2 separate regions of the Homo sapiens genome follow, and region 2 is linked to region 1. Evidence: fine-mapped expression QTL. A gene starts in region 1. The other region holds a variant in brackets. All regions are shown on one strand. Distances are from middle to middle. Region 1 holds the start of ZNF618 (zinc finger protein 618). Region 2 overlaps ZNF618 (zinc finger protein 618).

Evidence for each region.
Region 2: its variant is fine-mapped to the expression of ZNF618 in cerebellum (GTEx, PIP 0.96). The same link has a PIP of 0.9 or more in cerebellar hemisphere.

Annotation. Positions count from the first base shown.
Region 1 is chr9:113,868,668-113,884,698 of GRCh38, forward strand. ZNF618 (zinc finger protein 618) reads left to right here and starts at 7,642. Exons shown (of 15, transcript NM_001318042.2): 1 at 7,642-7,746. The coding sequence starts at 7,714. RefSeq lists enhancers at 5,065-5,565, 5,566-6,066.
Region 2 is chr9:113,912,968-113,928,998 of GRCh38, forward strand. All of the region lies in intron 1 of ZNF618 (zinc finger protein 618), which reads left to right. Among named protein-coding and RNA genes, the nearest start is that of ZNF618, 45 kb to the left of the region's middle. The variant G/T (reference allele first, on the strand shown) is at 6,641.

The sequences.
Region 1 (16,031 bases):
TGTTGGTTGTCGGTGCATCCCATCAAGAGTCACATGCTGGCAGTTTGTCCAATTACTGGTGAAAGAAACATTCCATTTTACTTTTCTATGCCTCACTCCCCTCATCTGCTAATGGAGATAACTGAGGGACATAGTTGGATGGCTTCATGGCTGAGCTGTCATTCCAGACATGCCCCGCCCACTGGATAGTTTTGCAGATGGAAGCCGTTGAGATCATCATCATCATTAATATCATCATCTCGACTATCTAGGATACCTACTGTGTGCTGACATTATTGCTTTTTCTAACCCTCATGTAAAACATGCACGTCTGTGTTATCATCCCCATTTAACAGTTAAGGAAACTGGGGCTCAGAGACAGTGGTGTGATGTGCTCAGGAAAACACGGCTGGAAAGGGACTCAACTGGGATTGGAACCCAGTTGGGTCTGAGTCCAGACAGAGCCTGAGCCCTGTACTATGACACATTGTAATTGCATTCACAAGTGTGTTTCTCAGCAGAAAGGATGGATTATTAAAGCCTCCTTTGGGAGCACCAGATGGTGAAGGAGGAAACGAGGTGGACAAGCTCTTGCCATCTTTATTCCTTTTCTTTTTTTCTCATGGCCTGGGCCCATCTCCATTCTGAGATCCAGCTGAATTAAAATCAGGACTACTGCCATAGTGGGGGGCACTGCCAACTGGATTTGGGGAAGCTGCCTTCAAAGCTGACTTTGCTCCATTCTCGGCTGTCTAGCCCTGCTCAAATGAGGTGACTCCACCCTCATCCCATCCCGGAGCCTGAGTTTCCTTATACATGTTGAGGTCGATACGGGCTGGAAATGGTAATCATAATTGCCATGCATTGAGTGCATAACATGAATTAAGGCTTTAAATAACTCTGTGGTGTTACGTACCTTATTTTGCCCAATTTTACAGATGAGAAAAACTGAGGTTTTTATAGTGGCTAATGTTACAATCTGCACAGGTCTAAGTGCAGAGACTAGATGAGATCTTTACTAGGATGCCAGGCTTTCTCTAGGCTTCATGGGCTGGCAGGTTCCATGGAACAGGTTTATGAAACATAAGGAGCATTTATTGTTGACTCCTGGGACAGGCTACATAGATTTTTGCCTCAATGCTGATTCTTTATCTGGGCGATCACTTTGATCTCTTTCTTTCTTTTTTTGGAGACAGAGTCTCGCTCTGTCGCCAGGCTGGAGTGCAGTGGCACGATCTCGGCTCACTGCAACCTCCGCCTCCCGGGTTCAAGCAATTCTCCTGCCTCACCCTCCCGAGTAGCTGGGACTACAGGCGAGCGCCACCATGCGCAGCTAATTTTTGTACTTTTAGTAGAGATGGGGTTTCACCATGTTGGCCAGAATGGTCTCGATCTCTTGACCTCATGATCCGCCCGCCTCGGCCTCCCAAAGTGCTAGGATTACAGGCTTGAGCCACCGCATCCAGCCTGATCTCTTTCTTTCTATTTGCCAGTATCTTGTCCTGGATCTTCTTTCTCTCCGTTTTCGCTCCTGGACTCACCTCCCTGGGGGACTGCCAAGGCCTAAGGTACCTGCTTCTCTGGAGACTTCACCATGACCTGCAAGGTCCCTCCTTGAGGAAGTACGTTGCTGCTGGTTGATCCCAACTCCTTCCCAACTTCTCCCTGTGCGGGGATGGGGAGGTAGAGGAATGGAAGAAAAGAAGAAAATTCCAGAGCAAAAGTTGGAATTTTGTACCGGATCAAGACACTTGAGCCTTAAAATGGGGGTGACTGTCCCTTCTCTGCCCACTTTGGAGAAATAGTCAATCAAACGAGAAAATGCTGCCAACTTGTTTGATAAATTGCTAAGGAATTTTCTAAGACCAGATCGTGTGATTTCTTCCCCCCCCTTTGTGTAGAGACTTGAAAGCCCAAGTCACCCTGGCTGGGCTGTTACAAGAGAGCATTTCCCTTGTTTTTTAGGCTTAAGGAAAAGTAACTCAGCTTGAGGAAGAAAACACCATTTCATGAAGTCTTAGCCTTCATTCTTTTCCATGCCCTTTTGAGCCGACTGTTTCTCTATAAAGGCAACTTCTCCACCAAGACCTACCCAGCAGATCTTAGCCAAGCCCCCAGGTTCTGTCTGGGACCCAAAGGCTTCTGCTGAGGCAACTCCCACCACCTGCTTGTGACGCAAGTTTGACATCTGCCCATCACCTACTAGAAAAAGCCTCAGCATCTTAACTTCCTGGGTTTTCCAAATGTTGCCAGACTCTAGCACAAAGAAATGCAACTTTGGTGTATCTCCACATCACGTCCTCAGTCTCAGCGAACCCTCACCAGTCCTCCAAGAGGAACATTGGAAGGTTCTGCTCAGCCCCCCACGTCCCTTCTCTCAAGGCTGGGTCTCAAGAGGCTCTATGTGTTTTGTGACCCTGCCATCTTTGGCCATAGAGGATCAGCTCCTGGTGGCACCTAAGCCAAGCTTGACTCACTCCATTCTCTATTCTGAGTTTGGATTGAGCGCAGAGACTCCAGTCAGTACTTGCTGCACTGAGAGGATGGTATGCTGACCATTTTGACTTCGTGTCCAGGGAAGCAGAGACGACCCCTAACCCGGAGAGAGAGTGGGAAGGAGGGAGAAGTTAGGACTGAGATGTCAAGAGATCTGTGGCCCAGAGTGATGGAGAGAGAAAGCCCAGGTCCTGAAACTTTTCTAGTTCCTGGCTCTGAATCCCCTTGAGGCTTTGTTTCATTTCCTGCCCTTGGATACCATGATCCACCTTCTAATTTTCCATTTTTTGTCTGTTTAGCGTGATTTCTTTTCTATTGGTTACAACTGAAAGCGTATTGATAAGACTGGTAGGTTTTAGAATCCCCATTTTTCAAAGACAGACACTAAAGCTCAGAGATGAAGCCCTGAGGCCAGGATCACCCGGGTAGTGAGGGCACCGGAAATTCCACCTGCCGACGTGTGCGCTTTCTCTACACGAGACACTTTCTTTTTTTTTTTTGAGACAGAGTCTCGCTCTGTCGCCCAGGCTGGAGTGTAGTGGCGCGATCTCGGCTCACTGCAAGCTCCGCCTCCCGGGTTCACGCCATTCTCCTGCCTCATCCTCCCAAGTAGCTGGGACTACAGGCACCCGGCTAATTTTTTTATATTTTTAGTAGAGACGGGGTTTCACCGTGTTAGCCAGGATGGTCTTGATCTCCTGACCTCGCTACACAATACACTTTCTAAGGACTTCACACATTACATCATTTAATCCTCAGGGCACCCCATGAGGTAGATAAAACTGTTAGCATCATTTTATTTATTTTACTTTATTTTATTTCTTTTTATTTTATTTTATTTTATTTTATTTTATTTTATTTTTTGAGATGGAGTCTCGCTCTGTCGCCCAGGCTGGAGCACAGTGGCTTGATCTTGGCTCACTGCAACCTCCGCCTCCCGGGTTCAAGCGATTCTCTTGCCTCAGCCTCCTGAGTAGCTGGGACTACAGGCGTGTGCCACCACACCTGGCTAATTTTTGTATTTTTAGTAGAAATGGGGTTTCACCGTGTTAGCCAGGATGGTATCAATCTCCGGACCTTGTGATCCACCCGCCCTGGCCTCCCAAAGTGCTGGGGTTACAGGCGTGAGCCACCGAGCCTGGCCTATCATTTTAAAGATGAAGAAGTGGGGGCAAGAAGTTGAGCCATCTGCTGGAGACCACACCGCAGGGGAAGAGGACCAGAGCCAGTGAACCTGGGAACTGACGCCAGAGGCTGGGCTCATAAAATGATGTAGTAATGCTAGTCCTGGAGGCAGTGGGCTAGGCATGGAAGGAGTAAAAAGTTTCCAGAATTTGATAAACTCAGGCACGCCGAGTTGAACCACAGACCCTCAGAAGATGGGAGAGCCTGTGGGTGTCCCTCCCGGACCACGCTTCCACCGATGTGAGCATCTGTTCTTCCACACCCCTGACCAACAGTCATTTTTCCAACGCTGTATCACAGAGCCTGCTCCATCATAGAGCAGGTCTGGTCTTGTCCCCTGGGCGATCACAAAATATGTTGGCTCCTCCACCCACACACCCTCCCCCTTGAAGCTCTGCCCAGAGCTCGCCTGGTGTTTGTAGGGGTCCTCCCCTTCTCTTGGCTTCCCCACACTGGTCACAGTGTCATTGCTCTCGAAAGTGAGGGGGCTAAGATATGACCACAGTGCACCTGATGGGACCATAGCCACCTCATACAGTACCTAGCCACTTTCTTGGGCAGGTCCTCAGGACACTCCAAAAGTTCCACAAGGTGAGTATGCCCTCAGTTAATTCCTGAATGGAGACAAACCACAGCTCTGAGTGATTGCATAGTTTCTGCTGTGGTTTGGGAAATATGTGGGTTCATTTATAAGCTGGATTTTGTCAGGAAGACTTCAAGCTCAGCCATTGTCCCCTGAGGATACCCTTCATGGCCCATCTGATACAGAATGAAGAAAGGAAGCACTCTTCAAGGCCGAGACCCCTGGGGAGGAGATGCCTCTATGGTCGAGATGTGCTGATAGAAGGCCCAGCTCCTGGGACCCATGGGTGGCGAAGAAACGGAAAGGGCTTGCAGTGATTCTAGAAAAAGAAGGCTGAGAAGGACCATGAGCTTTTATAGGCCAGAGGTGCCTGAAGACAGGCTGTGGATTATTTCAGGTTGGTGGTCACTGATGCTCTTGAGTGAAAGCCACAGATTTTCTCCCCCAAAATGCACATACAGACATACATTTGGTTAAGGAGTAGTTCTTGGTTCCCCAAACCAATGCAAAGTCCCCATTTAAGAATCCCTGCTCTAGAGAGAAACTTCCATCTAATTAAGACCCTCCTGGAATCTTCGCTGACCCACGCCCGGGCTGGGTAGGACCCTTCCTTGAGCTGCACTGAGCACCTCACTGTTGGCACTGTACTGCAAAGGTTTGAAGAAGGTGGCCCTTAAACCAGCAACATCAGCATCACCTGGAAACGCATTAGAAATGCAAACTCTTGGTGCCTAACCTAGACCAAATGAATTCAAAACTCTGGGGTGGGCTCAGCAATCTGAATAGGCTCTCCTGCTGATTCCAAGGATCACTTGCATTTGAGAAGAGCTGCTGCAAATAGTTCTCCTCTTCATGGTGTGTGTCTGTCCTACTAGATACAAGGCACCTGGCACATAGTAAGTGCTCAAATGAATAATTATCGTATCAAGTTTTCCCGACTCCCAGGGCAGGAGTTTTTCCTTGGTACCATACAGCTTTCAGCTGTGGTGACTGAGACCCCATGTCATTTTGGATCTAGTTTCTACTCTAAGGCCTAAGATCAGGCTTGGCTCTACTAGGCAGAGGCGGGGACCCGGCCTTGAGGCAGGTGCCCAGAAACCTTCACACAAGGATCGAGCCAGACAGACATCAAATCTGGGAGCATCTTTCCAGGTAACAAGGCCCCAACCACCTGGTGGATGAGGGGCAGGTGGACTAGGGGCTGCCTGCCCAGCACATATGCTCAGGGCTCACAGGACCCAACTCTGCCATGCTCTGCAAGCTGCCCCTACTCACCTTGGTGCCTGCTGCACACCAGCCTGGGCAGAGGCTGCCAAACCTCTGGCAGGGACATACTTACCAGGTTGGTGGGGAGAAAAATGGCCACTTTCAATTTCAATTTTTAAGGAATCTCCAACTTTTAGGGGTCTGGGAGGAAGTGGTTAGAAGACTCCTCTTTTTTTTTTTTTTTTGAGACGGAGTCCCACTCTGTCACCCAGGCTGGAGTGCAATGGCGTGGTCTCGGCTCACTGCAACCTCCGCCTCCCGGGTTCAAGCAATTCTCCTGCCTCAGCCTCCTGAGTACCTGGGACTACTGGCTGGTGTGTGCCACCACACCTGGCTAATTTTTGTATATTTAGTGGAGAAGGGGTTCACTATGTTGGCCAGGCTGGTCTCCAATTCCTGACCTCGTGATCTACCCGCCTTGGCCTCCCAAAAGGATTATTTGCGTGAGCCACCACTCCCGGCCAGAAGACTCCTTTTAACGTCTTGTGTTATGAGTGTTTGTTAAGGGGGGCAAGAGTTGTGTTTCTTAATTTCATGTCTCCCATATAGGGCTAAACTCCCAATTTAACTTATTAGGGAAAGGAGGTGTCTTCTACACAGTGCCTCCGTTTCCTAAAATTTTAAAAATAACTTTTTTGAGGATTGTAGGGAAAACATTTCTGTAACCTTTCCTGTCTCATATTGCTCCAGTTCTTTAAACATTACAAAAAAGAACATTTGATTTTTGAAGGTGGGGGCAGAGAGAAGATACCTGGTTACTCTTAATTTCCAATGCTTTTATTTTTGAAAAGTACCCTTGCAGTTTTCTTTTGGGGAGGGGCAAAGAAGGATTTCTGTTCACCTTGCATCTCATAGAAGAGCAATTCTTAACATTTTTATTCCAAAAATCAACCAGTTGTGGGAGATGTAGGATGGATCCAGTAATCCCTCCTTGTCTCTATAATAGGGCAGGTCCTTCATACTTTCAATTTTTAAAAAATCGGATTTTTTAGGAGAATAGGGAAGAGAATAGAAAAAAAAATCCCTTTTAAACTTTCCCAAGTCACAAGGAGGCAGTTGCTCAAGTTAAAAAAAAAAAAACAACAATAACAACAACAAAAAAACTGGCTATTTTGGGGTGTTGGAAAGAAATATCCTGGTTCACGTTTTATTTCACATGCAAGTTTCTCAAATTTTCCTTCTCTAAATCAACCTAACTGGGGGATATGGGGGTGGGGGGCGCTAATATCCCTTAACCTTTAACCCCTCTTGTCTTACTGTAGGACCAGTTTTTCAAACTTTTATTTAGAAATACATATATATATTTTAATTTGGCAAGGATAGGCAGAAACAGCCGCTTCACTGGCATTTCACATAAAAGCGGCTCCTCAAGTATTTATTTTAAAAATCAGTCTGGCTGGGGGGCTAGAGTCCCCTTAACCACTCTTGTCGGACATGGGGCCAGTCCTTCAAACTTTTATTTTATTACATTAGTTTTTTTGGGAGGAGTGGCAGGGCAATAGAATATTCCCAATAAGCCTTCCAGTCTTCCAGCAAGCCAGCTCTTGAAAACTTTTATTTCAAAAATCAATCTGGTTTTTTTTTGGCGGGGGGGTACAGCGGGGTACAGAGTTCCCATTAACCTCTTGCGTTCCGCCGAGAGCCGGCTCCCTGAACTTTTTTTCCAGCGTGAAAATGACATTTCCGAGGGGCTGGGGGACTGGGGGAGGGCAGAAGGGAGCCGGGGAGCGGGCGCGGGGGGCGCGGGGAGGGCAGGGCGCGGCGCGGGAAAGTTTGGGGGGGCGGGTGTGCCGCGGCACTGGGGCTGGCGGACGGGAGGGCGGGCGCGCCCCTGGACCGGCCGGCTTTGTGTGCCACGCGGAGGCCGGCAGCGCGGAGGCCGAGGCCGAGGCCCCGAGCTCGCGGGCCGCACGGCGAGGCCGGCCCGGGGGCGGGCAGGGCGGCGGGGGGCGGCGGCGGCCCCGCGAGGGGCGGCTCGGCGGCAGCGGCTGCCGCGGCGCGGCCGGTGCGGGCCGGGGGTGGGGGCGAGGGCCGGCGCCCCCCCCGCGCGCCCCCAGCGCCCCCGCCCCCCCGGCCTGAGCGGGGCGGGCGGAGGAGGGAGCGGCGGCGGCGGCGGCGGCGGCGGCGGCGGCATTGTGCGCGCACCAGCAGCCCGGCCCGGGAGGAGCAGGACGCGCCGGGGCCGCCTCCTCCCGCACGGACCCATGAACCAGCCGGGCGGCGCGGCGGCTCCGCAGGTACGACGGGGGGCCGGGGGCATGCACCGCGCGGGGGACCCCGGGGGGCCGGGGCCCGGGGCGCTGCGCCACTTCATTGCAAGATTTGCAAAATGCAAAGTGCCTGGGCACGTTTGCGGGCTTTTTGTGGGCGCAATCGGGAGGGTCGGGGTCCGGAGAGCACCCCCCCGGGCGCTGCGGGGTGCGAGGAGGGTGGGGGTGACGAGGGGGTCTTTTGGGGCCCCCACCCAGCGCCCCCTCCGGCCCCGGGCTCGGACCGGAGCCCAGAAAACAAAGCGGCGAGAGAACAGAGCAGCCATTTCAGTTTGGACAATTCACATTTTGCAAAAATGCAACCCCTTCCAGCTCTGCCCCCTCCCCCCCAAATTTGCAATTTTCCCCTGACCCTCTCTGCGCTCGGGGTCCCCGATGACCCCCCGGGAGGTCTTTCCCCCCAGGTCCCCCATTTTTGCAACAATCTTTTTTTTTAGGCCATATTTTCCTTTCTCAATTTTTTTTTTCTAATTTTTCTTCAAACGGTAGTTTTTTCCCATTAAAACGACGCCACCTAGAGGATACTATTTTGTAAATAAAAAAGAAATTAAAATTGAAAAGAAATATTTTTTATTTCTTATTTTTTCAAAAGTTTGCACTACCAGGCAGTGGAGGGGTAAGAGATTCTTTTTTTTTCTTTTTTCGGGTGAAAATTTTCACTTTGATCTTTCCAGAAGCATGGAGACAATTTTTATTTCTGAAGCCAAATCCAGATAATATGTAAATGAAAATTAAGCTGGAATTTGAATGAATTTAGTTCTTGGAGGGGAGAAAGCAAAAAACCTCCTAAAAGCAAAGTCAGTTTGGGTACCCAACTCATTTTAGTTTGAGAAAAAAACTAATTGGAATAAAGAAAGGAGGGAAATTGTTGAGTTTAGGGAAAACTGAGAGAATTGGCTTTATGAAGCAATTAGAAATTGTACTTCATTGTAATTTGGAACTTGTTTAGCTCAGCGGGCAAAAAAAGACTAATTTCTCTATATGGCAATATTTAAAGTTTTTCTATTTCCACGAACGAAGGATTTAAAAGAGAAAATAGAACCTAAAATGTTGGCTTTGGACACACCCAAAAATTGTAGTTTTTTTTTTTTAATTTTGCATTTACATTTTACTGCATTTAAATCCTAAGATTCTAAAGAAAACAGAAACTAGAAAAGTTACAGTGAAATCCTTTCTTTCTTTTTTTCTGTATTTGTTGGGTTTTGTGTGTGTGTGTGTTTTTTTTGTTTTGATGGAATAATTAAGACTGTTTTCTGATTTTGTTTCCTGAAAGGTCTAGGCATTTCTTTTTTGTTGTTGTTTTATCCAGAAAATGTCAGGAACCTTTTTTGAGCAATATTAAGTGGAAAAAATGTAAATTCATACATTATACAAATTGAGTAGCCCACAGATTTGTAGGAGAGACCGCCATTAAAATAAGATATGCATAATTAACATTATTATGAAAAAACTAACAGTGGATTCACAGAAGCTCATTTTTTATGACATGCAACTGAATCAATTGATGAAGACAAGGATTGAGGAATCCTTGGTAAGGAAGAAAATTTTCCCTTTTCTGTCTTGTTCACCCTTCCAATTTGAAAAATTTATTACTTAAAAAAAATTTAGATTGGTTTCAGGCCTCTTTGATTGTGATGTGGGGTTGGTAGTTTATCAATATTTGTTATTTTTCAAAAACCTGATTACTTTCAAAGGGGGAAAAATCCATTAGCCTTGATCATTTTGGGGGGTTTGTGACCAAAAAAAAAAAATGCACAAATTTTACTGACTTAACAAGAAAAAGATAAAAGAGGGATGGGCAAAAAGGAGATGAAAATTCTGATTCTTATCCATCTTCCTTGGTAGAACACTTACTTTGCTGAAGAAATGTGATATAACACCAACTCAGCTGGTTTTAGCAGCAACAAAATAAAGGAAAAATAATCAAAATACAAACAAAAGCCAAACCCAAGGTTTGCCTTTGGAATATGAAAGCATATATGCAAACAATATTTCATGTGGAGGTTTTGGCCTTAAAATGAATCACATGAAGGTGAAACAAAAAAGAAAAAAAAATTTAAGAAGGCAAATAAATATTGACCGAATTGAAATTTGACAGATGAGAATAAAGTACCCACCCAAAGATGAAGCGTTTTGTGATAAATTAGTATCTAATTGAACTTGCTGGGGATTTTGAGCCTATCCCCCAAAAGTTACAATTTTTCTGTCCAAAAACAGCATATTGTTAGGACTTGCAGGGCGGGATCTTGGAGGGACCTTGGATTGGAAATTGATGGTGGGTCACCTGGGGCAAGAAAGGAAACCCTTTGCTCCTTTTGCCAGCCACTAGCTGGTCTTGGGAAAACTGGTGGCCCCAGTCCATAGATTCCCAACCCTGTTTTGTGGAAATTTGGATGTTTAAGTGGAATAAGTCAAATATATTATCTCTGTGAAATATATTTGACAATGGCAGAGGTTTGACATTTCCCATCATCGCCATTGCATTTGGGAGATTTTATTTTTTTAGTAACGAAATCCTTCAGGGCTGACTGGTCACATTCTGACATATTTGGAATGAGCTTTTTTTTTTTTAAGTAGCATAATTAAAAAAATTTTTTTCTGTTGAATTATTTAGGCCGATGAGTAGGACGGTCAAGGAATTTATAATTTCCAAGGGGCTTTGGAGGCCTCATGAGGCAGAAGGCCTGAGTTTAGCAGTGATGAAGGAGAGATGGGCTGGGGAGGGGTGGAGGGGGGTAGGGGCATCTGAGAAAAAGTCAGGGTTGTAGATAACAGGTTATTTCTGGTGCAAGGAATAAAAATATTGCAGCACGTCCCTTTGTGTGGCCTGGATCTCCTGACACACAATTCAGCTTCCTTCATTCCATTCTGCTGAAATTTTGTTCTGTTGTCTATGGCTAGAAGTTGAAAATCATTTCTGGTTTTGTAGAACTGTTTTTTTTTTTTTTCTGTTTTTTTTTTTTTTTTAAATTGGTTATTCTGATCATGTTTGTTGTAAAGGAAGTAGAGGTGCATGATGGTTCTATTGGGGGCGGGGCCAGTTTTCTTTTGTTTCTATTGGTGTCTCTCTCTGGATTGAGATCTGACCTTGGCCTTGGCTCTCTCACCTCCTATTTTAGGTGGACGTGTGACCAGAAATGGACATGTGAGCTAATTTTTATTAGCTCCTGTCTGTTCACCACATTCTCGTAGATTATTGGGCAAAATATCTGGCAAATTGGACTTGGGGGTGGTAATTTGATGATGGGCTGAATTATTTTGGCGAAAGATCGTTTATATTCAGTTTCACAGTGGAGACTCTTATTACTTAATGTTTTGCTTTTCTGCCTAAGGAGGTTTTTTTTTTTTTTTAATTTTTTCTAACAAGGTTTGAAATTTCAAGGGCCTGCTTTATAGTTTGACTTTGGAGCAAGCTAGGAAAAGAGGTTTGCTTATACTTCCAGCTCTGCACAGAGGTGAACTTGAACAAGGGTTCTTGCTTTTGCAGAACGAAAGCAACAAAGATGGCTGGTCAGTATAAGGCTGACCTCTCCCTCGTCCTAGAAAATAAACAGCCAATGGCTTGTTTCACTTGAGAAACTGGGTTTTAAAACTCCTCCAGTGTCAGATACAATATTTTTCTCACTTTTGACTCAGCTCTTGGCATGCTGCTTCCTCTGACCTCAGAATCCTTACGTCTTCTCCTTGGTGGGTGATAAGAACTTCCTTGCCATATATGACTGATGTATATAAGCCGACTTCTCATGGTCATGAGGAAATTTTGAATTTTTTCCATGTTCTTGTGATGTTTTGGGTCAGTTGTACCTTCTTTCTGGTGATGTAAAATGAAGTGGCTCTTTTCAGGAGCCCTAGCCCCCACAAGGTCTTGCTGTGTGACCTTGGACAAATCACTTTTTCCTTCAGAGCCTCAATTTTTGCATTTATAAAATGAACACTTGGGATCAGATCAAGGATAATAATAAATAGGTTTCATTTCTGATTGTAACTCCAAGGAATTGGTTATGGCTGCCTGGATCACTGTGTTGAGAAGGATTCTGAGGCCATATCCCGACTCCCATATTCTAGAGAGAGGGGTGCAGTGGCCAAACAGCATTGTAAATCAGAGTGGAGAGTGTACCTCTTAGTTACCATTCCCAGGCGAGACCTTGAATCATGGGCCATTAGTGGCCTGTGAAGTCAATTTAGTGAATCACAATCAGAATTTTTTAAAAACAAGAATAGACTAGAATATAGGGGAACAAAAAATAGCAGAGGCATACCACAGGGTACAGGTGAGTATCCTCTCATGAAACTTGTATTTATATTTGTGGATGTATGTGTGTGATTTGAAATAGATTTCCTCCTGTGGGTCACGGCCAAAAGAGTTTGAAAGGTACTGGACTAGCTGAACCGCCATGATGTGCTGCAGGTATACTGCACTTTATTGCTTATACTTTATTTTTGCATTTATTATCTCAATTAACTTTTAGGTGAACCCTGTGGGTTAGGTGTCCTGTGCCACATATTTTGAGCCCTGGTTGAGCCCACTTCAAGGGCCACATATGAAGAAAGCTCAGCCACATGGGCAGCCCAGGCACATACCCCAGCTTGTTGGCCTTGGATGAGTCTGGAAGGACATATGGAAAGGCAGATACAAGTTTGAAGGCAGCGTCTTTGCAAGGTCTTCTTGCTGGAGAGGAGATCTAAAGTGTGTGGAGTCCTTGTCTTTTGTTCCCCACTTTTAGTTTAAATTGCCAGAGAAATTTTTCTGGAGTTAGAGAGTCTGTGTTTGTGCTATATTTAATTTAATCAGACAAAAACACAGTCTGTATTTTTGTGTGTGTGCACTTCCTTAAAAATCCCAGAATTTCTGTCTTAGTCTCCTCATCTTTTAAATGTGTCAGGTCAGCGCTAATAGAAATATAATTCAAGCCCCCGTTGCGAGCCACATATATAATTTTTAATTTTCTCACAGTGTATTAAGGAAAGTAAAAGAAACGGGTGCCATTGATTTTAACATATTTAACTCAGTATATCCATAATACTATCCTTTCATCAAGCCATCCATATGAAAATTATTAATGTGACAAGTTACAGTCTTTTGCGGGGGTGCTATTGAGTCTTTGAAATCTAATGTATTTTACTCCTACAGTACATCTCAATTCTGACCAGCCACATTTCACCTGTTCAGCAGCCACATGTGGCTGGTGGCTACTATATTGGACAGCTCAGGTTTGGACCAGTTGTCGTCATCACTGGCTGGCCCCAGAAGGGTAGCAACACCTTTCAGACCTCTTGGTTTTGTTGGTGAGACTTCCTATCAGAATCTCACATGCTCTGAGGCATTTCAGCCTGTAGTGATGATGAGTTCCATCCATATAGCTCTCCTGGCTAGAGTAGCCCACATTTCCCTTTTATTTGTCCCAACGCAGACTTCTGCCAGGGTTAGGCCACTGTGCTGTAGTTAAAAATGACAAATGATGGCTAGTAACTCCGGGATGATGTGTTGCAGCCTGTGAGCTGTTGAAGTCAAGGAGTGTGAGTCCGGGAGGCTGTTGCTTTTTGAAGTGCATTTTAAATAAAGTGTTGCCAGAGAGAAGGATGAAGTTGCAAAAAGGCAGCAGGTGGCCAGGACCAGGGCTGGGGTCTGAGGAGAGGAAGGAGATCAGAGGTAAAAGATGGCCTGGCAATGAAATCTATTTCTGAGCCAAAAACATGGCATCAGCAGGAAATCCCCCCAGGCCAGGCCTTAGGTCAGATGCATAGAGATTTTCCGAATCCACCCCAATTGGGAAAATGGAAAGCTGGGTTTGAGGTCTGCCAGACCAGAGTTTGAAATCCAGCCTCATGGTGTGGTTAGCTTTGTGTGACTTCGGGAAAGTCACTCTGGTTCTGGAACCACAGCTTCTACATCTGGGAAAAGAGGGTTAATGATCCCAGCCTTGCAGGGTTGTTTTAGGATTAAATGAAGGGGTCACATGTGGAGACTCTCAGCCGGTCTGAGGGCCTGAGTAGGTGGTCGACGCATGTGAGTTGACTCAACCCAGTGGCCAGGGATTCTCCATTTGGGGAGATTAAGTCCCACTGACAACACTTGGGGTAGTCCTGGAAACCTGGTGGCTTATCGTTAGCAGGCAAAGTTAGGCGACAAGTGAGAATGTACACTCTTGGCTGTTGCTTTAAAACAGCCTGCCATCCATGAGACTTTCTTGTTAAAGCATTCTGGATGCTTTCATTCCGGGGCTGCTCTAGCTCCTTGGAATGTTTCTGGATTTGTTTCTGAGCCTGTGGCAAGGCTTTAAAAGGGATACATCTCAATCGCGGGTGGACCTGTATGTCTTTGAGCTTCTGCTCATGCTGGGGCCCTTGCCTCTGGTGCCCCTTCCCTCATTCATATCTGCTTCGTGAGAAACCAGACCCTCCTCGAGATCAGCTGCACTTCTTCTTCTGTAGAGCTCCCCCAACAAATTTCCCCAGGTAGGCTTCCTCTCCCTCTGCCCCCATGGTACCTCCCAAACAATGTGGACCCACAGGTCAGAGTTGGTTGTTTGCATTTCTGCTTCTCCAGCCAACTTGTAACATCTGTGAGGGTAGAGATCACCGGTTATTCATTTTAGGGTCTGGCGCAGAGCAGCAGCTCCATAAATATTTGATGACTTCATTTGATTTTTGGAAATAGCTCAGATCAGTGGGCTTTGGGTCTAGTGAAGAGTGGATGACCAATTTGGGCTTGGCCATTTGGTCAAAGCCAATGTTTTATTAGGGAGCCCGAGGCACATTTTCTTACAGCTGGCTCTGAAGCCATGGCTCCCCTGGAATAATAAGTCCAACAGGGATCCTTAGTTGGGGAAATGCTCCTTTACATGTCTTGGGGGATTTTTAAAATGTTCGTCTGATGACTTTCACCCCTGCCCTCCTCACTCCTTTTGTATAAAGTATTTCTTTAAAGTGGATGGGGGACCCCCAGATGCCTGATTTGCAGGTATGGTGAATGGGGCATAGCAGTGCCCTGTATTTATGCCTGGTCTTCTTAGCCAGGTGTCCTGGAACTGAACACCAGGGGCCTGTTTGCAGAATATCCAGGCACACGGGCTCCTTCAACTTGAAGCACCTAAATGTGTGATGTGACCCCATTTTTGGTTGAATTTTGGTTTGCAGATGTCAAAGATTCAAGGAAAATTTATGGGAGAAAACAGAACCTTCTGTTTCTTGGCTTAGTTTTTTTCAGCACGTTTTATAAAATGCTGTCATTTTTAACACTTTGTGGCCAATTTCAGCAAGCAAGCATAGAATCCTAAGTTAAGGTAGACATCGATCCTCAGTGTTCATATTCCCACGTTTCCATATTTCTGAAATCAGGATGCCCCTTACAGTAGATTTGTTCTTCTAGTGAACTTTTTCTCCCTCTTATTTCTTCTCCAAAAGCTGTTATAAAATCGATGGTGCATCTATCAGTTGAAAGCATCTTGGGATTGAGTGTTGTTGTCCTCCTGGTGGGGAGGACTATGACCTGTGGGGGCTCCATGCTCTGTTTACCTCACTTTTCTCTGGGCTTGGCCCCCCCCCCCCCCCCCCCCGCCCTGTACAGTGAAGGCAGGACTTCACCTTGGGAAGAAACATCTGGAACTCTGACTTAGTCCTACTTTCCTGCCATGTCTGTGTGTAGGTTTTGTAATTTTGCTGTGGCCTCTCTAAAAGGGGCAAGTAGCCCGTGGGAGGGAGGTGAAGTCCTGTAAATGGGGGAGGGGGGTCTCTTCAGTACAGCCACATGCATGAGCTGGCCCGACAACAGCGGAGCACCAGTTTGACATTTCCAAGGGTAGAATGAGCAGAGCATAGTCGGAGAGCCAAGGCACGGCTCCCCTCTCTGCTCCACCAGTTAATCATTTTGTGGTGTTTGCCAAAGTACTTCATTTCCTTGCACCGTATTTTCCTTACCTGTAAAGGTGAGATGATAATATATTGATGATGATGATTGAAGATGATGATGCATAGGGTTCTTGTGAAAGTTGTGAGAGATGTAAGAAAAAAGTTTTGTAAAGGGCAAAGTTCTTTTCACTTGCAGCATGTTATTTGTGCATCATCTAGTCCAAGGATGGTAAATAAGTAGCATACATGCTGCCATTCCCCATCCTCTAGCCTGTGGCAGACATCACTAATTGACCATGGTAGTCCTTTCCATTGAGTATGGCCAGCGGCCTCAGAGTCCTTAGTATTATATAATGCTACCCATCAGTTGGGCTTAGATGGGACATGAAGCCAGTTTGTCCTTC
Region 2 (16,031 bases), 44 kb after region 1:
TTACTCCAGACATTCTGCTTGGTCTCTGCTCTTCCTTCACAGCAAGTTCATCTGGACAGTTTCCAGGGGCAGCTGTCAGGGCAAGTGATCTATAAGGGAGGTTCAAACTCTGGAAACGGGAGAGTGAGCAGAGTGGATTTCACCAGGAACCGCTGCCACGTGTAAGAGCTGCTTTCTCTAACGCCTGTGCTGAGTGAAGGGAAGCTGCCCCTAGAATCTCACTCAGTGCCCACCTGCCCACACGCAGGGAGGTGGTATTCCCCCCTTTTACAGATGAGGATACTGAGGCTCACAGGGTTGAAGCGATCTCAGTGTTAACTGGTAAGTGGTAGAGTTGAGATTTGAATTCAGGATTGCTGTCCCTCAAAGTCTGTGCGGTTGACCGCCTTCTTCTGCAGATAGATTTAACATAAAGCTACATCCCCCTGACAAACCCTGCAATGTGCAGCATTGGAGTCACGGGAAAGAAAACACTAGCAATGTTCTTTAGCCAGTATCCAGTTGTGAGGAACCTGCAGGAGGGGGCGACAGCCCTACCCTTGGAGGTATGAAAGCAGTTGCTGGCTGACCACTAAGGCAGGCCTCTTAGAGCCAAGATCCTGCAGCTCTGGGCCCAGCTGTTGCTTCATACTTTTCAGCAGTTTATGCCAGGCTTGGGAACTTGGCAGATATCACTCCTTGGTTCTTGAACACTGCAGTCAGTGTCTATCTTTGGTCAGATCTTGTTTGGCTAAACCAGTAGGGCAGGCAGCAATGGTCTTGAGGGAGGGAGGGTGGGTGCTGTGGAAAGACTGTTGTCTTGGGTTTGAGGGTAGACTTAATGAGCTGTGGATCTTTGGCAAGTCCCTTTCTCTCCTAATCTTAGAAGTTGAGGCTTGTTGCCCTTACTTCTGAAATGTGGCTCAGGCTGTATGCTCCACGGGGACATGGGAGAGGAAGGTGGAGGTGAATTGAGGGCTAGATAAACCTGTGAATGGAACACACTGTGTCTTAGAAATTCACAGTGGCCATTGGGTCTTTAAAGGCTCTGAAAAGTCCTGCAGCAAAGAAAATAGATGAATTTTGTTTATTCAGCCTCCCCCAACCTGGACCACCCTTTCCCCCTCTAAGCACACTTTTTATTTAACATGCTGCTGGCTAATATAAGGAGACATGAACACTGAGTTATTACCCCAGGAGAGAGCTGCTTTTTAAGGCGGTTGCTCCCCCGGTTCTTTCTGTGATGAGAACACCCTTTCTGTAAATGGGATAAATTGGCCCTTAGCAAGGTAGTGTCTAAGTCTTCTAAGTCGGGTTTCCTTAAACCAAAGTCCATGTTTGTTCCAGGATCCCAGAGGCCTGCCAAATTCCAAGAGCCTCTTTTGGTTCCCTCTGGCAGCCAGGCCTTCAAGACGCAGGATATAGGCACCTTGGGGCTCTCCTCACGTGCGCTTCTCTGTAGAGCCATTAATCTCAGAGCCACTAAGCACTGAAGCAGAAGAACCCATTGGGTGGGACTTTAAAGTTGCCTCAGTGTATGCAACAAAATCCCAATCATTCGGAGTTGCCGGTTTATGATTTTGTAAACTGCAGTTGACCTTTCCAAAAGATTTGCTAGGGAAAATGCTAGTGTAAAGAAGATCTTCAGGGGAAGAGCTCTAAGGTGTGTAAGGAATCATTCTATTTTTAAGCCTTTTGAATGCTCCCATTGGAATATAAACACTATGCTAATTATAAAAACATCTTTTCTGTTCCAAACGGGTGTAACAAGATAGAGAGGGCTGGGTAGGGGAAGGGAGGAGTGTTTAAACAGAGGTTGAACCAGAGATCAAACACCATCTGGCCACAATAGTTGCTCATCTTTAAAAATTCTGATGTCCCACCTGTTTTGACAACTTGGATGTAACAGTCAGTAGGAGCGAGCTTGACTGGCCCCCTCATCTTCCCAGCACTGGCCTCCAACCTGACTGGCTCATGAAACTTACCTGCATAGCCCCTGATCCTTTGAAATTTGCACCCCTGTCTAAGAACAGTTTTCTCTAATATTTTAAGGGCACAGTTAGCATAAAATTGCTCATTTTCTCTTCATTTAACTATAGAGGGAAAATCTTCTACCTTACTTAGCAAAACTTTCAAAGATAAACAGTTTTAGCAGCAACTGACCATTATTGAGCACCTACTATGCATCAGGCTTTGTGCAAGGCGCTGGAGTTTGGCCTCCATGTAGCTTGCTGCCTGCTATGGTCGGCATCACTGAGTGCATCTGAGGTTGCTTTCTAGCCACCAGCCAGGTGTCACTCAAAGCTTCTGCCCTGCCTGTCGTATGGTGGACCTCAGCAGAAGATTCTGAAATAGTGGAAGTGGTTCTTGCTGTTGACATCCGCTACTGTCAAAGATGAGATGAAGGACTAGATGAGCCCCTGAGAAGTCAGGCCGTTGGTTCCCTTTGAGCTTTGTGGATGCCAAGGTGAAGGGGTGGAGGAACTGGGGGGAGACTGGTGGCTTGAGGAGGGTCAGGGACACCAGCTGGAGGAGGTGTGCAGGCTTGTGGGTAGTTAATGCTGAGATTGGTAAAGGGGAAAGATAAAGCCATCCGAGACTCTAAGGAAAAGGTAGAAAGATTCTAATTAGCCAAGGCTTTGTATGCAAATGGCATTTCAAGATGCTTAAAAATACCTTTTGAGGGAAGCTGAAAATATTAGGTGGTCTACTTGAGCAGGGAGTATTTGGGGAGTGGTGGGACATAAAAGGTGTGTGTGGGGTTTCTGGGGGAAGGAGGAAAGGAGGGAGGGATAGAGAGAGGTAGATGGATGGACAGATAGACAGACAGACAGATACTAGCTATTCTTGTGGACGACCCTGTAAACCAGGTAGAGAATTTTGCTAACCAAGGAAATGAATAATCCCCATGAGGGCACAGCCTGTGTTTGCTTTATTCATTACTATGTCCTCTGTTCCCAGCAAGGGCTAGACATAGTAGATGCTTATTAAATATTCGTTGAGTGAATGAATAATGATAATTATAGTATTTATCACATTTATCTTTATGGCAGCAGCTATATAAGGAGATAGTATTATCTCTTTGTGCTGACAAAGGTGGGCCATTCTGAGACATGCGCGTGTGTCTGTGTGTGTGTGTGTGTGTGTGTCTGTGTGACTGTGTGTGTGTATTGCAGTGTTGGAGAGAAGGGCAGGAACACCCGAAAGCTTTTTTTGCAACAGCTCTGTGAAATATTGATCAATTTGATTCCATTGTATGACCCAGGGACAATTTTACTAGCAGAAAATATGACCGTGTTATATGGCTGCAATAAAAAATCACAGCCATGAGCTCAGGCCCAGAAAACGAAACAAGCTGATGATGTAGCCTGGACCGGTGGATTCCGCATCTTTCTGCTAGAGTTCATTTGCTGTTTGTGCCTTCGTGGTCCTGATGATAAGGTTACAGGTCTCAGCCAAAAACTTAAGAAGAGCCTAAAACTGATTTCAGTTTGACCCCTCATAAGCTTCTCTTGCAGTTAGGAAATGCCCACTGTTGTTCTGTTGTAGAGGTAAGTGTACCAGTCTAGGTTGGGAGCTGTCCCGTGGAAAGGGAAGGGCACTGAAGGTTTTGAAGCAGAGACATGATTGATCAATGAGTATCATGGCACTTAACCGTGGAGAGTTAAGAATCATGCAGGTGGCAGTTACCCTGGTGTGAGCGTGCCTAGAAGATGAGAACTGATGAGCTTTTGGTCCCTCTCAGAATGAGAACATGTCACCCACCTAACTGTGATTCTCGTGTTGCAAGGTGTGTATCCTTCACCCAACATGGTCCCTTAACACATCTTCGTCTGGTGCTCAATCAGAAAAACATTGCTCTGTCCCAATTCTGGAGGACAAACTGGTTATTGGGCTTCTAGAAAACTGGGAAGACAGTCTCCAGCAATGGTACCTTCTTAAGAGATTGTTCAAGTGAAATTTAAACTTTATTTACTGGCTCGAGGACTGAATCTTTCCTAAGATGCTACTCTGCCAAGCCTTTGGGCGGCTAATCTGGCATCTTGTTCAGAAGGAAGAGGGGCATGGAGAGGGTGGAATGGGGTGGCCAGCTCCCACCAAGGCAGGAATGGAGCTGAGATATTGCCACAGTTCAGTCTGACTTTGTTTTTTCTCTGTCACACCAGACATTGCAGCCTCAGGGCCTTTGCACTTGCTGTTTCCTTGCCCAGAATGCTCTTTTCTAGTTATTTTCTGGGCTCGTCCCTCTGGATATATCCTTCTTTGCCTAGCAAGCCTTCTCTCTATCCTTTTTTTTTTTTTTTTTTTTTTTTTGTGAGATAGGGGTCTGGCTTTGTCACCCAGGCTGCAGTGCAGTGGCTAAGTCTCCACTCATTGTACTCACTACCTCCCGGGCTCAACTGATCCTCCTACCTCAGCCTCCCGTGTAGGGAGGGACTACAGGCGTGTGCCACCACACTCGTCTATTTTTTTTTTTTTAAATCTTTTGTAGAGGCGGGATTTTGCCATGTTGGCCAGGCTGGTCTTGAACTCCTAGGCTCAAGCAATCCACCTGTCCCGGCCTCCTAAAGTGCTGGGGTTATAGGCGTGAGCCACCGTGTCTGGCAAGCCTTCTCTTAAGTACTGTTTAAAATTATACCATCTCCCCATTCCATCCTCCTTTTTGGCTTCATTTTTCTTCATAGTACTGGTAATCATCTAATGGTTATTTTACTGTTTAAAAAACAATTTGTATATACTTCCTCTCTATCTTCCCACCTCTCTTTCCCAATAAGGTAAGTTTTGTGAGGGAAGGGCTTAACACATTTTTTAAAAAACTTTGATTTCGAAAGATTTCAGACTCATAAAAACCTCTAGAAATACTAAGAGTTTCCATACACTTTCACCTAGCTTCCTCAAATGTTAACTTCTATGCCCATAGTATAATGCTCAGATTATACTATGAAATTAATATTTACACAAGAAATTGGATTAATATAATACTGTTAACTAACCTGTAGACCTATTCACATTTCACCAATGGCCCCATTAATGGTCTTTTTTCTGGCCTAGGAGCCGATCCGGGATCCCACATTGCACTTAGTTGTCTTACCTCTTTAGTCTTCAGCAGTCAGGGGCAGATCCTTGGTCAGTCTTTGAATTCTGTGCCCTTGAGTCCTTTAAAGAGTCCCCACCGGTTGTTTTATAGAATGCTCCTCCTGGATTTGTGAGACATTTGTAGGATGACGGAGGGTATGCATTTCCGGCAAGAATACCCCAGAAGTGATGCTGTTTTCTTCTCACTGTATGACATCGGGGACCTAGGGTATTGATGACTTACTACTGGTGATGTTAGTGTTGAACACTTAGTTAAGGTGGTGTCTGCCAGGTTCCTTCTCTGTAAAGTTACTCTTTTATTCTTTGCATTAATAAGTGTTTTGTGTGGCGATATTTTGAGACTATGCAAATATCTCATTTTTCATCATGCTTTTCTATCCACTAATTTTAGCATCTATTGTTGCTTCTTGCCTACAACAGTGATAACTGTGGTGTTTGCCAAATAGTGATTTCCTATTTCCATCATTTCTTCTGTATTTATTAATTGGAATTGTACTGTAGAAAGATCTCTCCTTTCTCCTCCATTTATTTATTTATTTACCTGCTTATTTAGATCAATTTAGACTGCTGGATGTCTATTTTATGGGTTATAATCAATTACCATCATTATTTTTTTTTCTGATGCTCAAATCATTCCAGATTTGGCCAGTGGCAGCCCCTTCACGCAAGCTCCTCTGTCCTTTGAACAAGTCCCTGTCATTCTTTGAGCATTTCTTACTTTCTGAGTCTTCAGGATGTACCAGGCTCATCTTGCACCCCGGCCCTGGAATCAGCCCTTACCCCATGGCACAGAGCAAAGGTTTTTGTCTGTATCACTCACTGTTGTATTCTTAGTGCCCATGGTGTCTGGCACGTTGTGGAGTCACAGTAAATAAATTTGGTGTGAATGAACGAATGAAAACTGGAAAGGAAGACTCAGTGGCCACCTTCCAGAGGCCATAATTCATATCCTCACTAGCCTCCCCTAGTTAGTCTGAATTAGCAGTTTAGGAGGGGAGGGGCTTTCCCTCATCTCCTCACGTTTTGTCCCTTTCAGCTTGTTTTCAGTTTTATCCAGTCTGAAAAGGATCCCAGGGCATCCCCCATCTCGTAGAGCAGAAAGAGCCAAGAGTGTGAGCAGCCAAGGGGAGCAGGCTGGCAGGAAAGTGAGACAGGGCTGGCAGAGCCTGGACCTGCTTGTGGCTAATGACTTGGTTGAACAGCAGCCGCGGCAGGGAGAGATGCTCTGGTGGCTGATGGCAGAGGTCCTGGGACCCCCACTGGTGTGTCTGTAGCTGGGGGCTGCTGAGAGCCTCTTGCAGTCTCCCGAGATGCACAGGCCTCGCTTGAATATTTAATGAATTTTTCTTTATAAAAGATTAAAACTCAGCCACATTGGCTTTGAGAAAGCCTGTGATAATCAGATTTTTATTTATGAGTTGAATTGTATGTGTGTGTGCATCCCTGAGGAGGAAAACTGGCTGGCGGGCTTGCCATCCGTGCTGGCAGGCTGTTATGCCAGGAGCGAACTTGGCGAGTGGTAGCCTTTTCATAGTCAGGAGAGGCCTGGCAGGCCCCTGGGCCG[G/T]CTGCTGCTGGTGTCCTCCAACGGCGGGGCCAGCCCTCTCCGTGAGGAGGTGGAACTGTCCCCATGCCACCTTGATTCCACGGTTTGGATTTGCAGAGCAGACAGACTCCTGTGTTCTTGCTGATTCTACACAGTGGTCCTGGGAAGTGGGCCAGGCAAGGAGGGTTGCCTCTAGTTTGCAGATGGAGAAACTGAGGTCCAAAAAAGGGAAGTGACTGGCTCTTCGTAGTCTAATGAGTCTGGAAGTCATGAACATTGTAAAAGTATCACAGTCAACTGCAGAGCTGATGCACAGCCTTCGCGTCACCCCAGGCTCACCTTCTTATGCCATCCTCGTGGGTGGGGATGCTGAAGGCTGCAGCCAGGGTCTGGTCCAGCCTGGGCTACACAGGGGCCTGACACCTGGTTGGACCTTTGAACCTGGGGAGCACCAGGGCCCTGGCCTGAATGTCAGGGCCTCTATAGCTCCTGGGTCCAGAGTGGGGAATCACTGTTGGAAGAGATCCCAGGTATCCCAAGTTCATTCTCCCTTGGGCCTTTGTACTCCCAAGTTCCTGACAGGCCTCATTCAGCCAGTTGCCATGGCGATGCAGAAGTCACCTGCTTGATCTCTGACACTTTTGTTTCAAGTGAGGCTATTGGCGTGGAGCCCTTTAGGGGCTAGGAGACCCCTTAATGGTGATTTATGGTGGGGAGGAGCCTGCGGGGTGCAGTCCATGTAGTGTGCTGTAGTGCTTGGGAGAAGGTACTGTAACACAGAAGTAGATCTTGATTTTTTACTTATTTTCAGAGTCACAATTTTTTTTTTTTTTTTGAGATAGTCTCACTCTGTTGCCCAGACTGGAGTTCAGTGGTGTGATCTCGGTTCATTGGAACTTCCACCTTCTAGGTTCAAGCGATTGTCCTGCCTCGGCCTCCCACGTAGCTGGGATTACAGGCGCCCGCCACCATGCCTGGCTAATTTTTTTATTTTTAGTAGAGACAGGGTTTCACCATGTTGGCCAGATTGGTCTCAAACTCCTGACCTCAGCTGATCTGCCTGCCTTGGCCTCCCAAAGTGTTGAGATTACAGGCATGAGCCACTGTGCGAGGCCAAGAGTCGCAATTTTTAATGAGTTTACATCATAAGGTGGTGGTAAGGATTAAATGAAAGAATGGATATGAAGTGGCAAGCACAGTACCTAGCACATGGGAAGAGCCACATCAATGACAGTTTGTGATAGTATCAATAGGATTTAGCATTGGAGATTTGTGCAGTTTGCCATGTGGCTAGTTGTAGTTTTGCTAAGCCATACATTTGTGTCCCACCTAGCTGAGGGTGACAGTGCTACCTGGGTAGCCCATTTCACAAGTGGAAGTCAGTTGTGTGGTGTGTTTCCCTTGCTAGCATGCACGCTCCATCAGGTTAGGGGCAATGGCTGACCTATTGGTGGCTCCAGCTCAGCATGTGTCTCTTAGAACCTGACACAGATCAGATGTTGAATACCTTTGCTATTTTAAAAAGTTACTTGAGCATATGTATTCATTTATCTTGCAGCTTTGGCATCCATTAGACCAAGGCTGGAATCCTGGGTCCTGTGTCTCCCACCTAATACCTGGGTGTTCCTAGGCAAATTATCTCGCCTTTCTGGTCCGTTTCCCCATCTGTAAAATCAGGCCAGTGTTATGCACCTAGATTCTGCTCTGGACTTCAGAGAGAATGAGTGCAAAGCACACAGGCAAGCCTGTCCCAGGGTAGCATTTGTTGGGGACTGCCTGTATGATGTCTGGTTTCACTGAGTGGAAGGGTTTTCATGAGGTCAGAGATTCAGAGTTGATTTAGCCATCCACATGTTAGGCTGAGGGTGTTCTCTCTTTAGCCAGTCCCTTGAAAGGCTTCTTCATGGTTATGGCCCAGCAGAGAATCCAGTCTGGTTTTCCAGAGTCTCGAAACACCCACATCTGAAGATGAAACCCCGGAGGCAAACAGAGTTAGGAGTCACTGAGCTTGGAACTGACCAGCTGGGAATGTGCTGTGGTCTTCCTTGAGAAGATGGGGAAACAGAACATGATCTGGAAAGAAGGAAGAAGGAACAGCTTCTGTTCTTCTCAGGGGAAATGGGACTTTCTGAACTTCATCATTCTGAAGTGTCCCACAGATCAAATCCTTTTTTTGACTACTCCTTACATAAAATATTTTTATGACAAAGCTTTCTACAAAGCAAAAGATGCCTTCTATAAAGTGAATCATCACTTCGGATGCTTCCTTTGTATAAACCTGGCCTTTCTTATGTTGTAGGGAGGGTTTTTTTTTCCTGTTATTTGTATTATCCAAAGCAATACATGTTCGCTGTTGAACAGTTAGGAAGTTCCAATGAGCAAAAAGGAATAAAAAAATCAAAATCACCCATAACTTTCCCATGCAGAGATAATCACTTTGGATGTTGATTTTTGATGTATCGATACTTTGATGTATGTACTGAAAACACATATGACATGTACATAACTTAAAAGCTTGTTCATTCAAGAAGTATTTATTGAACTCCTACTCTGTGTGTGATCCTGGGGATAAACCAGGGAACAAAAAATAAACACAATTTCTCCAGGGGACAATTTATGCAGATAAAAGGAAGAGAAGAAATTGGAACAGAAATGGGACTGAGGAAAGGCCTGAAACTGATAGTGAAAGTCGTCATGGGCTCTGAGAGTTTTGATCTCACTGTGGAGTGGTTAGGTATGAAATGGAGGGCTGGACGGGGCAGAGGGAAGATAAGTTGGCAGCTGCCCAGAGGGCCAATACCTTCTATCCAAAGAAAGTGGTTGTGGTTGGTGTCCTAAGTTATGTACACTGGCAGACAGGGGCAGGCCGGAGAGGGTTTTGTTTTGGTTTGTTTTTTTTTTTTTTTTTTTGCATGCGGATGCCCAGTTCCAGCAACATTTGTTGAAAAGAGTATCCTTACTCCTTTGAATTACCTTTGTGCCTTTGTCAAATATCAGTTGACTATATTAGTTTGGGTATATTTTTGGGCTTTCTATTCTGCTTATTCTGTCTGTTCTGTTTATTGTGATCTACTTGTTTATTCTTTCACCAACACTACACTGTCTTGTTTACTGTACCTTTATAGTAAGTCTCGAAGCTGGGTAGTGTCAATCCTCCAACTTTATTGTTGTTCTTTGGGATTGTATTGGCTATTCTGGGTCTTTTGCCTTTCAGTATATACACTTTAGAATCAGTTTGTTGATATGCACAGAACAACTTCTGGACTTGTGATTGGGATTGTATCAAATCTTTAGATAAAGTTGGAAAGAAATGAAATCTTAACAATACGGAGTCTTCCCTCCATGAACATGGAATATCTCTTTATTTATTTAGATCTTCTTTGATTTTTTTCATCAGAGTTTTGTAGTTTTCCGTGGATATCCTGTACATGTTTTGTTAAGTATTTATACCTACGTTTTTATTTTTTTGGCACTAATAAAAATGGCATTGTGTTTTTAATTTCAGATCCCAGTTCTTCATTGCTGGGATATGTGAAAGCAATTGACTCTAGTATCCTGCAAGCTTCCTATAATCACTTATTAGTTCCAGTTTTTAAAATGGATTATTTGGGATTTTCTATATGGACAATCATATTATCTGTGAATAAAGAAATTTTTTTTGTTTTGTTTTGTTTTTACAATCTGTATACCTTTTATTTCCTTTTCTTGTCTTACTGCATTAGCTACGACTTCCACTATGACATTGAATAGGAATTATGAGAGAGGACATCTTTGCCTTGTTCCCGATCTTAGGGGGAAGACATTTAGTTTCTCTCCGTTAAATATGATGTTAGCTGTAGGTTTTTTGTAGATGTTCTTGATCAAGTTGAGGAAGTTACCCTCTTTTCCTAGCTTGCTAAGAGTTTTTATTATGAATGAGTGTCAAATCTTGTTAAATGCACATCTATGATATGATCCTGTGACTATTCTTTTTTAGCCTGTTGATGTGATGGGTTACACTATTGATTTTCAAGTGGTAAACCAGTCTTGAACTCTAAGAATAAATCCCATTTGGTCAGGGCATACACTTTTTAAAACATTTTTAGGTTCAATTTTGTACTATTTTGTTGATCATTTATCCACCTTTGTTCAGAAGAGACATTGGTCTGTAGTTTTCCTTTTTTGTAATGTCTTTATCTGGTTTTGGTACAGATTGAGTATCCCTTATCTGAAATGCCTGGGACCTGAAGTATTTTGGATTTCAGACTTCTTTTCAGATTTTGGAATATTTGCATTATATTTACTGATTGGGCACCCTTAATCCAAAAATCCAAAATTTGAAATGCTTCAGTGAGCATTTCCTTTGAGTATCATCTTGGCAGTCAACAAGTTTCAGATTTTGGAGCACTTTGGATTTAAGATGTTTGGATTAGGGATGCTAAACTTGCATTAGAGTAATGTTAGTGTCGTAGAATGAGTTAGGAAGTTTTCTCTCTGCTTCTACTTCATGGAAGAGATTGTAGAGAATTGGTATCATTTTGTCCTTAAGGGTTTGGTACAATTCACCACTTGGACTTAGGGCTTTCTTTTTTGAAAGTTTATTAATTATGGATTCAGTTTCCTTTATATTAATAGATACAGGCATTTTTAGATGATATGTTTCTCCTTATCTGAGTTTTGGTAGCCTGTGTCTTTCAAGGAATTGGTCCATTTTATCTAAATTACCAAATTTGTGGGCAAGGAGTTGTATATAACATTCCTTTGATCATCCTTTTAATGTCCATGAGATCAGTAGTGATGACCCCGTTCGATTTCTGATGTTAGTAATTTGTGTCTTCTTCTTCTTCTTCTTCTTCTTCTTTTTTTTTTTTTTTGGTCTTGGTTAGCCTGGCTAGAGGCTTATCAATTTTATTGATCTTTTCAAATAATGAGCCATTAGTTTCATTAATTTTCTCTACTCATTTCCTGTTTTAAATTTCATTGATTTCTGCTCTAATTTTTATGATTTCTTCTGCTTGCCTTTGGTTTATATTGTTCTTCTTTCTCTAGTTTTCTAAGGTAGATGCTCAGATTATTGATTTTATATTGCATTCAGTGCTATAAAATTTCCTCTAATCACTGCACTTGCTGCTTCCCATAAATGTTGATAATTGTATTTTCATTTTCGCTTAGTTCATAATAGTTTTTAATTTCTCTTGAGATTTCTGCATTGACCTGTGTGTTATTTAGAAGTGTGTTATTTAGTCTCCAAATATTTTGGAATTTTCTGGCAGTCTTTCTCTTATTGATTTCTGGTTTAATTCCATTGTGATCTTAGAGCAGATTTTGTGTGGTTTCTGTTCTTTTAATCTCGTTAGGGTGCTCTTTTGGGCCTAAAATGTGACTATCTTGGTGAATGTTCTGTGTGTCCTTGAGAAGAATGTGTATTGTGGTGTTGTTGGATGCAATACCCTATAATAATGTCAATTAGATCCAGTTGATTGATGATGTTGTTTAATTTAACTAGATACTGATTTTCTACTTGCTGGATCTGTCAGTTGTTGCTAGAGGATATTGATGGTGGATTTGTCTATTTCTCCTTGCAGTTCTGTTTTTGCTTCACATATTTTGTTTCTGTGTTAGGTACATACACATTAAAGATTCTTATGTCTTCTTGGAGAATTGACCCCTTTATCATTATGTAATGCCCCTCTTTATCCCTGATAATTTTCCTTGCTCTGACTTCTGCTTTGTCTGAAATTAATATAGCTACTCTAGGTTTTTTTAATTAGTCTTAGTATGGTATATCTTTCTCCAAACCTTTACTTTTAATCCAAATATATCTGCATTTTTATATTTAAAGTGAGTTTCTTATAGACAGCATGTAGTTAGTTGGGTCTTTTTTTTTTTTTCAATCCTTTCTGATGATCTCTGTCTTTTTATTGGCATTTAGACCATTCACATTTAAAGTGATTGATATGGTATATTAATATTACCACATTTATAATTGTTTTCTATTTGTTGCCCTTGTTCTTTGTTTCTTCTTTTGTCTTCCATTCTTTTTCTCCCTTCTCTGCAGCATTTTATATGATTCTATTTTCTTCCCTTTCAACATATCAATTATTTTTTAAAAATAGTGATTTTCCTTAGAGTGTGCAGTATACATGTACAGTTAATCTGAGTCCACTTTCAAGTAACACTTTGACGCTTCATGGTTAGTGCCACATATCTTATAACAGAGTAGTCCCAATTCTTCCCTCCCTTCCCTTATAACATTGCTGTCATTCATTTCATTTATCCACATGGTATAATCATCCAGTATCCTGTTGGTGTTACTATTTTGAACAAACTGTTATCTGTTAGGTAAGAATGAGAAAAATAAAAGATTTTATTTTACTCTTATTTATTCCTTCTTTAACACTGTCCTTCTCTTTCTGTTTGTTTGAGTTTCTGACCCAAATTACTTACCTTCTCTCTGAAGAACTTTTAAAAATATTTCCTGCAAGGCAGATCTTCTGGCAACAAATTCCCTCAAATTTTGTTTTTTGTTATTTCTCCTTCATGTTGGTAGGATAATTTCACTGGATCAGATTTCTAGGTTGGTGTTGTTTTTTTTTTTTTTCTTTTAGGACTTTCAGTATTTCACCTATCTTCTTGCTTGCATGATTTCTGGAGAGAAATCCAATGTAATTCTTATCCTTATTCTTCTTATAAGTAAGGTTTTTTGGACCCCTTTTGCAAAAATATTTCAATATTTTCTTTTTGTCTTTTATTTTCTGCAATTTGAGTATGATACGCTGGGATACAGTTTTTTTGGTTTTTGTTCTGCTTGGTGCTCTCTGAGCTTCCTGGATCTGTGGTTTTGTGTCTGTCATTAATTTTGGAAAATTCTCAGCCATTGCTACTTCAAATATTTCTTCTGTTTTTTCTTTCTTTTCTTTCTGGTATTACCATTACATTTATGCTATACCTTTTGTAGTTATCTCACAGTTTTTGGATATTTGGCTCTATTTTTTACACTCTTTTTTCTCTGTTTTTTCTATTTATGAAATTTCTGTTTTTAGCAATTTCTTTTGATTCTCTCTTAGTTTCCATCTCTCTGCTTATATTATCAGCAGTTCTTGCATGTTGTCCACCTTTTCCATTAGAGCACTTTGTGTATTTTTTACTGGTATTTTAAATTCCCAAATCTGCACTGTAGCTCATGCTTGTAATCCCAGCATTTTGGAAGGCCAAGATGGGTGGATCGCTTGAGCTCAAGAGTTCAAGACCAGCCTGTGCAACATGGTGAAACCCTGTCTTTACAAAAAATACAAAAATTAGCTGAGTATGGTGGCATGTGCCTATAGTCTCAGCTACTCAGGAGGCTGAGGTGGGAGGATCACTTGAGCCTGGGAGGCAGATGTTACAATGAGCTGAGATCGCACCCCTGCACTCCAGCCTGGGCAACAGAATGAGACCCTGTCTCAAAAATAAATAAATAAAAAGTAAATAAATTCCCAAGTCTATGTCATATCCGAGTCTGGTTCTGATGCCTCTTACTGTAGCTGTTCAGTTTTTTGCCTTTTAACATGCCTTATAATTTTTTGTTGAAAGCTGGACATGTTGTATCTAGTAGTAGGTACAGAGGTAATCAGCATTTTAATGTGAGGTTTAAAGCCTTGCATGATGTATTAGGTAAAAGGAACTGAGGTAAATAGGCCTTTAGTGTGAGGTTTTATGTTTATCAGGCTAGGAATTAGGCTGTGTTTACAATTTATTGTAGCTGTCAGTGTCAGAGGCTAAAATTTCCTCTCTGGTCCTTGTTTTTGTCTCACCTGTTGTCTTTGGGTTTCTTTAGAGATTCCTTAAATAGTGACCAATCCTTGTAGTTCTTTCAGCTGTGATCCCATTAGCATACAGGAGTCCTGTTGATGTGGTGCTAAGGACTGGGCGAGGGGTAGTGTTCTAGAATCCTCTCATTGGTTCTCAGTCTTTTAGTGGGCCTGTGCCCCTGTGTCGTGACCTTTACATGTGCTTGTGAAATTTTTCTTTAACCCCTTAGGTGAGACAGGAAGGCTAGAGGAGTCTGGAGTTGGATATTTTCCTTTCCCTTGTGTTGAAAACTAGAGGGGTTGGAGAAGGACATTTCCCTTCCCCCATATCAATCAGACCCTGGTAAAACCCACTTTGGTTAGACCCTAGTAAATAGTTTCCCTTGAGGGCAGGCTTTTGTTGAATAGAACAGTATGTTCTGCAGGTATTTCAAAATGTTACTTTGTCCCTACCCCACCATGAGGAGATTTTTCTTCCATCTTAACTCTGAGAAGCTGGTGAAGCTCATGGAAGTTTTCGTCTTTCAAGCGAGTTCATCAGCTTGTCTTAAGTTGCAATTCTCTTTATTTGCTGTCTCTCCACTTTTAGGGGCAGTGGTTTGCTCTGTGACCTCAGTTCTCTGATGGATCTAAAAAGTTGTTTAGTTTCAGTTTGTTAAGGTTTTTTTCTTGTTACGAGGCATGGAGTGACAGCCTCCAAGCTCTTTACATGTTGGAATGGAAACCAGAAGTTTGTATCATCTCTTTTTGAAAATCTCTTTGTACTTCAGTTTGGATAGTTCCTATTGAACTCTTCCAATGCAGTGATTTTTGTTTTTTATCAGCTATATCCAGCTACTGATGAGCTCATTAAAGGCATTCTCCATTTCTGTTGCTGTGTATCTGATTTCTTGTGTTTTCGTTTCATTCTTTCCTATAGTTTCCATCTCTTTGCTTATGTTAACCATCTGTTTTTGGATGTTGTCTAATTTTTCCATTAGAACCCTAAACATATTAATCGTAGTTATTTACAATTGCTTATCTGACAGTTCCAAAGTCTGTGTCATATCTAAGCCAGTTCTGATGTCTGCTGTCTCTCTTCAGGTTGTGTTTCTTTCCTTGCCTTTTAGAATACCATGTAATTTTTTTGTTGAAAGCCAGACCTGACGTATCTATTAATAGAAACAGAGGTCATGAGGATATTAGTGTGAAGTTTTATGTTTATGTGGCTAGGAACTGTTCTGTGTTTAATGTTCGCTGTAGCTGGAGATGCCAGAAGCTTCAATTTCCTCTTTTCTTTGTTTTTTGTTTTCTCTCCCTTTTCCTGTTGTCTTTAGATTTCCCTAGAAACTCCTTCTTAAATAGAATCTGTGTCTTGCAGCTGTCTCATTTGTAATCCACTCTTATTATATTGGAGTCTTTTTGATGTGGTTAAGTATTAGGGAGAGGAAGTAGTCTATACTCTCATGATTCAATCTCAATTATTATTATTTTTTAAGTGGGCCTGCATCCCTGGGCTGTGATCTTCAGAAAAATTTCATAGCCTTTTCTTCTCCCTTTATGTGAGATAGGAAGGCTCGACAGGCTGGAGTTGTCCAGTTGTCCTTCCCTTAGGTCAGATAAGTCTGTGGTAAGGTAGATTCTTTCAAGGGCAGGCCTTT